Regions from separate parts of the Homo sapiens genome. Here region 1 is linked to region 2. The links come from fine-mapping of genetic effects on gene expression. A gene starts in region 2. The other region holds a variant in brackets. All regions are shown on one strand. Distances are from middle to middle.

Region 1 (5,362 bases), 69 kb after region 2:
TGCAGGGCCCCAGGGACAGTGTTGGGATCTGCGACACCTACACACACCTGAACTCAGAGAGCTGAGGTGCTGCCTGACACCTGGGGGTCAGGCCCAGGCTGGGTTGGAATTGAGGGCCTTGGTTTCTCTGAGAGCTGTGAAGAATGGAGCCAGGGAGCAGGTGCTGTGGCCTCTGGAAGAAGCCCAGACCCTGTCCAGAGCAAGGATGAAGGCTCAGAGCGGGCTTTGGGCGGTTCCCCAGCGTGTTGGGCACCCAGCTTGGGCGTCAGGCAGCTCCCCTGGGTGTTGGGCACCCAGCTTGGGCATTGGGAAGCTCCCCCTTCACAAGCCCCTCCCTGACGCCCCCACCTGAGGGTGCAGAGGGCTGCAGTGCTGATGGGCAGTCTGCTCGGGGGAGCGGTCGCCCCAGGGAACCTTCTGGAGTTGGGGATGCCCCTGCCTCCTGCCCAGGTGACTAAGCAGCTCTGAGAGTGTGGCTAGGGGCTGGAGGGGGTGGGTTTAGGCAGCATCCTCATGCATCTCCTGAAGGGCTTATCCCCCTCAGGGTGGCACCGACCCCATGGATTCCCTTCCCACAGGCTACCGGCACTGGCACGCGGACCTGCGGCCAGACGACAGCCCCCTGGAGGCAGGCCTGGCCTTCACCTGCAAGCTCAAGTCGCCGGTGCCCTTCCTGGGGAGGGAGGCCCTGGAGCAGCAGCGGGCCGCAGGCCTCCGCCGGCGCCTGGTGTGCTTCACCATGGAGGAGTGAGTATCCCGCTGTTCCACGCCCACCCGGAAGCAACTGCCTACAGCCAGGGCAGGCAGGCGCTTCTTGGTCCCCCACTCAAAGCCCCTGGTACCAACACTTCCCATGTGCCAGCCATGCTCTTCCAGAACGCACCCAACAGCCCACTGCAGATAAGGAAATCGAGGCCAAAGAGAGAGGCCATCTGGCCAGGTCACATGTTGTTAAAGGCAGAAAGGCAGAGAGAGTTTGCTCTTTTTTTTTTTTTTTTTTTTGAGACGGAGTCTCACTCTATTGCCCAGGCCGGAGTGCAGTGGCGCAATCTCGGCTCACTGCAACCTCCGCCTCCCAGGTTCAAGTGATTCTCCTGCCTCAGCCTCCCAAGTAGCTGGGATTACAGGCGTGCACTACCACACCCAGCTAATTTTTGTACTTTTAGTAGAGATGGGGTTTCACCATGTTGGCCAGGCTGGTCTTGAACTCTCCTGACCTCGTGATCTGCCTGCCTCGGCCTCCCAAAGTGCTGGGATTACAAGCGTGAGGATCCCAACATGCTGGGATTCAAACCAGGCCAGTGTAAGGTTGCGCACCTGGGGCCCCTCCCAGGCCAGCAGGGCCCGTGGGGAGGTAGAGAAGGCTCCACACTCTTCCCATGCAGGTCTCAAAAGAGAAAGGTGCAGCCAAGCCCAGGCCACCCCTCTGTGGCAGGTCTAGGCCGAGGGCCTTGGGAGGGTGAACCCAGGGAGCCTGACCTCCCAGTCACTGCAACACGACCTCCCATCCCGTTCTGGTTCAGTCTCCCCACAGCCCTGTGATAGGGGGAGAGGGGCTCGGCTGGGGCCGTCATCCCCACTCACGAATGGAGACCACATGGTGCCAAGGAGCAGGGGACTCACGCCCAGTCACACGGCAGAGGTGGAAGGAGAGACTCTGCCTGGGGGCGACCTGACCTCCTGCTCTCCCCACTGAGAGTGGCTTTGAGCATGCTGCTGGAGCCCGGCGCACGTGATCCCTGGGCTACTGGGAGAGTTTGGATTCCAGGAACCCGAGTCCCACTTGGGTTGCAGGGCAGTCTGAGAAGATCAGGCCCTGATCAGAGGCCCTCCCGTGGTGCCCACGGGGGTCTGAAGCACAGGTATCCGGGGAAGTGGGCGGCTTTGGGCTCTGTGGACATGGAGCTGACAGCCAGCTGCAAACACTGCCACTTCTCCCAGATTTCTGGAGCCTTCAAAAGGAGTGTCAGAGTGACGAGGGGAGGGAGAGGGAGGACGAGGGAGAGGGAGGGTGAGGGAGGATGAGGGGAGAGGGAGGGTGAGGGAGAGGGAGGGTGAGGGGAGAGGGAGGGTGAGGGGAGAGGGAGGGTGAGGGAGAGGGAGGGTAAGGGAGAGGGAGGGTGAGGGAGATGGAGGGTGAGGGAGAGGGAAGGTGAGGGAGAGGGAAGGTGAGGGAGAGGGAGGGTAAGGGAGAGGGAAGGAGAGAGAGAGGGAGGGTGAGGGAGAGGGAGGGTGAGGGAGAGGGAGGGTGAGGGGAGATGGAGGGTGAGGGAGAGGGAGGGTAAGGGAGAGGGAAGGTGAGGGAGAGGGAGGGTAAGGGGAGAGGGAGGGTGAGGGAGATGGAGGGTGAGGGAGAGGGAAGGTGAGGGAGAGGGAAGGTGAGGGAGAGGGAGGGTAAGGGAGAGGGAAGGAGAGAGAGAGGGAGGGTGAGGGAGAGGGAGGGTGAGGGAGAGGGAGGGTGAGGGGAGATGGAGGGTGAGGGAGAGGGAGGGTGAGGGGAGAGGGAGGGTGAGGGGAGATGGAGGGTGAGGGAGAGGGAGGGTGAGGGAGAGGGAGGGTAGGGGAGAGGGAAGGTGAGGGAGAGGGAGGGGGAGGGTAAGGGGAGAGGGAGGGTGAGGGAGAGGGAGGGTGAGGGAGAGGGAGGGTGAGGGGAGAGGGAGGGTGAGGGAGAGGGAGGGTAGGGGAGAGGGAAGGTGAGGGAGAGGGAGGGGGAGGGTAAGGGGAGAGGGAGGGTGAGGGAGAGGGAGGGTGAGGGAGAGGGAGGGTGAGGGGAGAGGGAGGGTGAGGGAGAGGGAGGGTGAGGGAGAGGGAGGGTGAGGGAGAGGGAGGGTGAGGGTGAGGGGAGAGGGAGGGCGAGGGGAGAGGGAGGGCGAGGGAGAGGGAGGGTAAGGGAGAGGGAGGGTGAAGGGAGAGGGAGAGGGAGGGTGAAGGGAGAGGGAGAGGGAGGCTGAGGGAGAATGAGGGTGAGGGAGAGGGAGGGTGAGGGAGAATGAGGGAGAGGGAGAGGGAGGGTGGGGGAGAGGGAGGGAGAGGGAGGGAGAGGGAGGGAGAGGGACGGTGAGTGGAGCCGTGTCGTCGTCATCC[T/C]GTGGCTTCTCCCTGGGTGCCTGTCAGGCTCTGTCTCTTGTGTGACAGCCTGTCCAGCTCCCTGAATCAGCTCAGCTCCTGGAGAGGGGGCCCCTTGCAGACAGGTCAGCATCCATGGGTCCTTTCTGCTTGCCTGACCCCGACCTTCTGGCCCTCCATGAAGTACCTGCAGCCTGATGTCTGGGTTTAGGAGGGCCTCGGACGGCCCCTGTGACCCAGTGCGCTCTGCTCAGGGGTTTCCTGTCAGGCTGCATAATAGCTGCCCTGCGCCGCGGCTCTGGACTGTTGCAGTTCCAGGACAGGCGCAGAGAAGATGCTGGCAGTGGAGTCACAGAGAACAGCCCTGCCACACTGCTCTGGGACTCCGGGCAGTTGGGGCCTCAGCGTCCTCACGTGGAGAACAGAAACTAGGGTGACACCAAAGATGTTTACGAAACCTCCTTCCAGCCTCGTCCTAATCTGATGGACAGGTGGGACCCAAACAGTGACTCCAGGCTGAGGATGCAGGAGGTGCCCTCAACATCACCCCAGCCCTTCCATTCAGGGACCCCTTTGCATAGCTGCCGCCGTGATAACCCATTGCACAGGGAGAAGTCTGCAGACTGGCAACAAAATGTTACCAGTTAGCCCTGGGTGCTGGCCTTTCTTTGATTTTAGCTTACTTTTTTTTTTTTGTCTTCCTGCTTTTAATCTTTAAAACTTTTACAGTGAGCATTCATGTATTACATGTAGTAAAGTCCTTTGAATAAAGTATGTATTGTACTATAAAAAAAATGAACCTGGCCGGGCGCAGTGGCTCAAGTCTGTAATCCCAGCACTTTGGGAGGCTGAGGTGGGCAGATCACTTGAGGTCAGGAGTTCGAGACCAGCCTGGCCAACATGATGAAACCCCATCTCTATTAAAAATACAAAATTAGCCGGGCATGGTGGTGGGTGCCTGTAATCCCAGCTACTCCGGAGGCTGAGGCAGGAGAATCGTTTGAACCTGGGAGGCGGAGGTTGTAGTGAGTCTAGATTGTGCCACTGCACCAAAAAAAAAAAAAAAAAAAAAACCAGAGTTGAACAACAATGGAAGGAAATCGGAAGCAGGGGCCCTCCCAAATATACGGGGCTCGCTTCTGGAAACAGCAAAGTCCACTCCTGGTTTTGATGTTTTCTATTCATCCCTTTTACTCACTCGAAGCCCGAGCCCTGCTGTCCAGGCCAGGTGCTGGGCTGGCTCTGGGGACCAGCGTAGTCCTAGTAGGCCAGCCCTATCTGCCTGGAGCCACGGTTGGGTGTGCATCATGCAGCCCCCCATTCTCCTCCAGGCCGCTGTGGACGCGTCCCCACCCTGCGGTTTCTGGGGCCCCAGCTTTCTCTACTGCTTCTTCCAGCAAAGTACCCATGTTTGGCCTGGAGGCCATCTGGAGGAACGGCCAAGTGGTGGGCCATGTCCGGAGGGCTGACTTTGGGTTCGCCATCGACAAGACCATCGCCTACGGTTACATCCATGACCCCAGCGGTGGGCCGGTGAGTCCCCTTCTCTGGCCCTGCTAAGGCAGATGCCGATCCCTCACCAGCTCCAAACCAGCTCCCTGCACTGCACCCTGAGTGTGCCGGGCATAGGGAGGAGGCACGGGTGTGGTCCAGAAGAGGAGGAGGGAAGAGAAAGGAGGGAGGAGGGAAGAGGGGGAGGAAGGAAGGAGGAGAAGGAGGGGGAAGGAAAAAGGGGAGAGAGGAAGGAGGAGGAGGAGGGAGAGGGAGGAGGGAGGGAGAAGGAGAAGGGGGAGGAAGAGGCCTCAGCAGGTGGAGGACTCCCCAGCTGTGCCTGGGCAGAGCCAAAGCTGCTCTCTGTTTTCTTTCTGGAAGAATCCGACTTTGGTGATTCCAGGCTTTTTTTGGTTAGAAGGAGGTGCCAGCCAGCCAGGCTGATACCTTCCAGCTCCTCACACCAGAGACCCAAACCTCAGGCCACCCACAGCCCACCCTTTGCCTGGGGTGCAGGGGTGGCCCCCAGGGTGACCGACTAGAGACTCAGAGACCCATGTTCCTATCCTCTCTTTCCTCACCCCCGACACCCCTGACCCCAGGCAACCCCACCCCCTCCAGGTGACCCTGACCCCTGGCTGCAGGAGGCAGGAACAGGCTGGAAAGAGCAGGCACTGCCCCCAGGAGCAAGTCCCAGGACAGCTCTGGGTGGCCAGGGGTGGTGGGGCAGGGGGTGGGCAGCCTCCCCAGAAGGGGAAGGGGTGGTCTCTACCTCCACCTCCTTTTCCCATCTTTCTGGCACTGCAAG
Region 2 (5,362 bases):
TGTAATCCTAACGCTTTGGGAGGACGAGGTGGGGGGATCACTTAAGGTCAGGAGTTCGAAACCAGCTTGGCCATTCATGGTCAAACCCCGTCTCTACTAAAAATACAAAAAATTAGCTGGGCACGGTGGTGCGTGCCTGTAATCCCAGCTACTTGGGAGGCTGAGGGAGGAGAATCGCTTGAACCGGGAAGGCGGAGGTTGCAGTGAGCCGAGATCGTGCCACCGCACTCCAGCATGGGCGACAGAGCAAGACTCCGTCTAAAAAAAAAAAAAATTAGCAAACCAAATTCAACAGCACATTAAAAAGATCATGCACCGTGATCAAGTAGATTTTATCCCTGGTGGGGTGACTTCTTTGAGGTGGCAGCCCCTCTGTTGGTGTGATCTAGAGCAGGACTGAAGGAAATTTACTCAGGGAAATTTACAAGGCTTCTGTGAAACTGACATGGCAGGGCTTCCAGCCTCCTGTTCCAAGATGGGAAAACTAAGTCTCAGCAAAGGGAGAGGTGATAAGACCAGCCCGAGATCGTACAGGACCCTGTCTTGGCCTCCTTGTCCGGAGCCTGGCCTCTCCAGAGCTGTGACTACTAGTCCCTGGGGGGAGACAGCCTTTCCACCTCTCCCAGACCGGAGCTGGGTGCTAACAGGCCCTGCCGGATGAAAATCCTACGATACTAACAGACAGCTAACAGGCCGGGACCGGCCCCCAGCCACCACCCCTTGTCCAAAGTGCAGGTTCATTGTGCTGCCCTCTTGGCTTGTAACAGTTTTGCAACAGTTGCAACTTGTCTTTGAGTGCAGGGACAGGAGAAGTGTGGGCTACCCGGCCACTGCCCTGGAGCTGTGGTGACTGCTGCGTTTTTCTCCCATGCACTTGCACGTCCAGGACTCCTGGGAGAACTTGGGCCACACTCCTTCCTTGCCCTCTTGAGCTCATTCGTCACCCTGTTGGGTGAGCACAGCCCTAGCTCAGGCCACTGGGCAAGCCACACCATCCAAAGAGGAGGTCCTCTGCCCCAGGACCCCCACACCACCCCAGGTAAGCCTCAAACTGGCGGGGCCAGCTTTCCACTGGGCAGCCAGGGGCCTAAGCCAGTGGGCCCTTTGCCTTTGAGGCAGGGACTGAGAATGGTGTCAGCACGTGGTCAGGCCCAGAGCCCAGGCCCCCTCCTCTAAGAGGTCCTCCTGGATTCCCTGCTGGAAGGAAGCCAGCCTTGTGGTGTCGTGTCTCTCCCTGGATCTGTCTGCTTCGTGGACCCTGAGCCCCTCGAGGGCAGGGGCTGGGTCTTAGATGTCACTATAGGTTTCCCAGCAGTGCTTTGTACACATTGGGCATTCAGTAAATGTAGAGGATAGACAAGCTGGCAACAAGACAGTCGGACATCCTCGGTGTGAATAAGAACACAATGATTTGATTGGTATTAATTACAGCAGTTTACTATACGATCGCTTCCGGTATTGGCAGCTGGCATCATTACAATATTAACAGACTGCCATTGAAATGCCCCGTCTTTGATCCAGCGCGAGGAGGAGATGTGACTTTCCATCAGCACCTGTTCTGATTCTTTGGGCATCCAGAGGTGTATTCTTTCTGGGTTTCCTCCACACCCCTCCTCTGGGTGTCTACTTCTGTCTGGGAAGGGGTAACTTGCCCCAGCCCAGAGTCAGGCTGCAGCATCCGGTCTGCCTCCTCCACCAGCTTGCTGTGTGGCCCCCTCCCTGGGCACTGCTGTCCCCAACAGTCAATGGAGGCTGGAATCCCTGCCCTGGGGGCTACGTGCTGTGCAGTAGCCAGTGGCTTGGGGGCATCTCCCCAAACACCAGAGGGGTCTGGGAGCTCGGGAAAGCAGGACGCAGACAGACCAGGAGACCCTGTCCCTGGGAAGCTGACCCAGGCCTTCTCACTCGCCTCTGAAGGCAGTGAGCATCCTGTCCCTGGGGGTGAGCAAACTGGGGCATGTGCTGAGATGACCTCACCAAAGGAGCCTCCCTGCAGTGGACGGGCCCCTGGCCCAAGCTGCTGCTGACCCCACCTTTCCTGCCCACCCTGCCTGTGCATAGCTCCTTCTGGGCGCGGGGAGCTCGGGCGGCTCCAGCAGGCAGGTGGTGCCTGGGTCTACTGCAGCAACCCTGAGGCGCCTGTTTCAGAGACGAGGAAATGAGGGTTGGAGCGGAAGGGTGACTGCCAGGTCGCCTACGGGTAATGGGGCATGGGGTTCACAACCCTGCTCTGCCGCCCTCAGAGGGAGCTGCCCACAGGGCTGGCCTAGAAGCCCCAACTAAGCTGGCCTAGAAGCCGCAGTGGTGGGCGGTACGCTCCGCCCAGATCCTGGGCGGAGACATGGGGCTGGCAGCGAGGGTGGGGGGCGGGGGAGGCCTGGAGTTCCGGCCAGGCCACTGCTTGGGAAGCAAGAAGGTGAAGGCACCTCTGCTGGGCCAAGCACTCTTAGGGCCGAGGGGCACTGCAGCTGACAAGAGGTACTTGGAGGTACACCCCCAGGGAGGGACGAGGCTGGGGCCTCCCCTATGTGGGCGGGGCTGGGCCTGGTCAGATCTGGCTGGGATCTCCCTCTGCCTCTGGCTGCAGGGACCATCCAGCTGCATGAGCAGGACCAGGGTTCACCATATGGGCAGCTGCCTCCCCGCCCCCTGCCGCTCCTCCCCACAAGTCTGCCTACCCTCACCAGGCGAAGGTGCCAGGCGCTCTCCTCGCTTGACCCCCACCACCCCCTGAGCCTGGGAGGAGGAGGGCGTTCCTGGGTCCTCTGCTTTGCAGTGAGGTTAAGTTGTTGCTCGAGGCCCCAGTCCTGTGACAAAACCCCCACCCATCTGTCTGATCCCAAGCCCAGGGCTGTCCTCAGCCCTCACTCCTGGGAAGCTGACTCAGGTACGAGACAGAGTTGGAGGGGGCAAGAGAGTGGGTTAATGTGGAGGCAGCTGTTTCCAGGGAGGTGGCAGGCAGGAGGGGCTCTGGGCTGTCCCCGCTGGGGCCGCTGCCAGCCCCCAGTCTGACAGTCAGAAGAGCCCTGACTGACCAGGCAGGTGGTGAAGGGGCACGTGGCAGCCTCCGGCGCCAGCAGCTGTCGCTTTTTGGGCACAGTCGGAAGGAGGAGGGAGGCTTTTGCCCACAGCTGACCAGGTGTGCTGTGCCATGCGGCACCGTGGTGGGTGGTGGGTGGTGGGGTGGGGGTGTTCAGCCTTGGAGGGCCTTCCTCGGTGCCACTCAAGCTGGCTTTCCCCTGGTGGGGCACCACTTTTGGGGGCTCCTGGAAGACTGTGGACCTTCAAGGACTGAAGGTATGTACAGACACATGCAGGAGGCATGCCTCCTTGTCCGGGGCCACCTCTGCAGGCAGGAGCCAGGCGGGCTGACACACTGAGGGCTGAGAGGCTGAGGACAAGCTCCAACACCTCCTCACTCCCCTACGCCGCTGCAATCAGACTCCCTGCTCCCTCCCTTGGGATGGGGCACTGGGGCAGGAGATGGGGGGCAGCCCTGACCAGCCTGAGAGCTGGGATCCCCCTCACATCCCCCACTGTGCCTAGGACAGGGTTCTGGGCTTCGTCAGGGCTTGGGCAGTGCCCACAGTTCAGGTGGGACAGAGTGTGGCAGTGGGTCCTGAGTCCCCCTGGGATGGTCAGAAGAGGGGGCAGGAGAGAGTCCCTGGCACTGCCACATGGAGGCCCTATGACCCTGGTCACCTCAGGGAGCCTCTCCGTGTGTCAGACTCCCCCGCTGTGAAGTAGAGACATTATCATGTGTCTATAGGTGTTCAATGAGAGTGAACGAACGTGCATAGCTATGGTCCACTCTTGAAAAAGGATGCTGACTTTCTTAGATAATTATATCAGTCATTCATACTGACGTAGGTGGCACAGCACTTCACATCTTGGATCACAGCCACATCCCTTTCACTTTTCCTGCAGATCCCAGAAAAGGGCAGTGGAGGTCCACACTGGGCAGGACACCACCCCACCCTTCCATTGAGGGCTGTTGTGAGACCTCCGTTCTTAACTTCTTAGTTTAAAGAATTTAGGCTGGGCACAGTGGCTCATGCCTGTAATCCCAGCACTTTGGGAGGCCGAGGCAGGCGGATCACCTGAGGTCAGGAGTTCGAGACCAGCCTGGCCAACATGGTGAAACCCTGTCTCTACTAAAGATACAAAAATTAGCCAGGCATGGTGGCATGCACCTATAATCCCAGCTACTCGAGAGGCTGAGGTGGGAGAATCGCTTGAACCCAGGAGGCAGAGGTTGCAGTGAGCCAAGATCATGCCACTGCACTCCAGCCTGGAAGACAGAGTGGGACTCTTTCTCAAAACAAACAAACAAACAAACAACAACAACAACAACAAAACAGAATTTAAACATGAGACACACAGCAAAAGAGCTGCAACATAGAGCAATTTATTGCAAAAGAAAAAGAACATTTTGAAAGTTAGGTGCGGATGCACCCTGGGAGAGAGAGGATTCCAGGCGGGGGGCTGCTCCTGAGTGTGAGGCAGCATTGATGATTGTTGGAGAAACCCCCTTTCAGGGAGTCTTCCACAATTATTCATAAGTGGGTGGAAAGAGAGGAAGAGGTTACTAGGCAGCATGTGATGGCTGGTCCTCTGGGTGCACATGCGGTAGCTGTACATGTTTGTTCATACGTCACATGTCTCTTTCGCATCTTTTTTTTTTTTTTTTTGAGACGGAGTTTCACTCTTGTTGCCCAGGCTGGAGTGCAATGGCACAATCTCGGCTTACTGCAGCCTCCACCTCCCGGGTTTAAGCAAGTCTCCTGTCTCAGCCTCCAGAGTAGCTGGGATTACAGGCATGCACCACCACCCCCGGCTAATGTATTTTTAGTAGAGATGGGGTTTCTCCATGTTGGTCAGGCTGGTCTCAAACTCCTGACCTCAGGTGATCCGCCTGCCTCGGCCTCCCCAAGTGCTGGGATTACAGGCATGAGCCACAGAGCCCGGCCTCATTAGCATCTTAAAATCTCCACCGAGGGGTGTGTTTTTTTACTATTAGAATGAGCAAAGGGTCAGTTTGAGGACAGGTAAAATCAATGTGCACATGCCCTCTCCAGGGGAAAGGCCCTACTGCAGACAGCTTTGCTTGAACGAGCTCAGTTAACACGAGCTCAGTTACAGTGCAAACGTGGAGGCTGATTGTGTGGATTGCAGTCACCACGGTTGCTGCGTCCCCAGGACATGGTGACTCCTTTGACTGCCTGTCCTGCCTCGCCTGCACCCAAGGAGACATCCGTCTTCATCAGCGCCTTCTCTCCTGAGAAGGAGGGCTCCCTCTTGCATTCTCATTGTTATTGGATTTTTCTGGCTGGGCAGATCTGGGAGGGTTTCCTGAAGGAGG

Evidence for each region. PIP is the estimated chance that this variant, and not a neighbour inherited with it, causes the effect. A credible set is the group of variants that fine-mapping cannot tell apart.
Region 1: its variant is the best candidate, but not a certain one, in a credible set for the expression of SARDH in amygdala (GTEx, PIP 0.73).

What each region holds. Positions count from the first base shown.
Region 1 is chr9:133,665,969-133,671,330 of GRCh38, reverse strand. SARDH (sarcosine dehydrogenase) reads left to right here. Exons shown (of 21, transcript NM_001134707.2): 19 at 579-747; 20 at 4,461-4,596. Among named protein-coding and RNA genes, the nearest start is that of DBH-AS1, 11 kb to the right of the region's middle. The variant T/C (reference allele first, on the strand shown) is at 3,085.
Region 2 is chr9:133,735,370-133,740,731 of GRCh38, reverse strand. It overlaps SARDH (sarcosine dehydrogenase), which reads left to right and starts at 2,380. Exons shown (of 21, transcript NM_001134707.2): 1 at 2,380-2,478.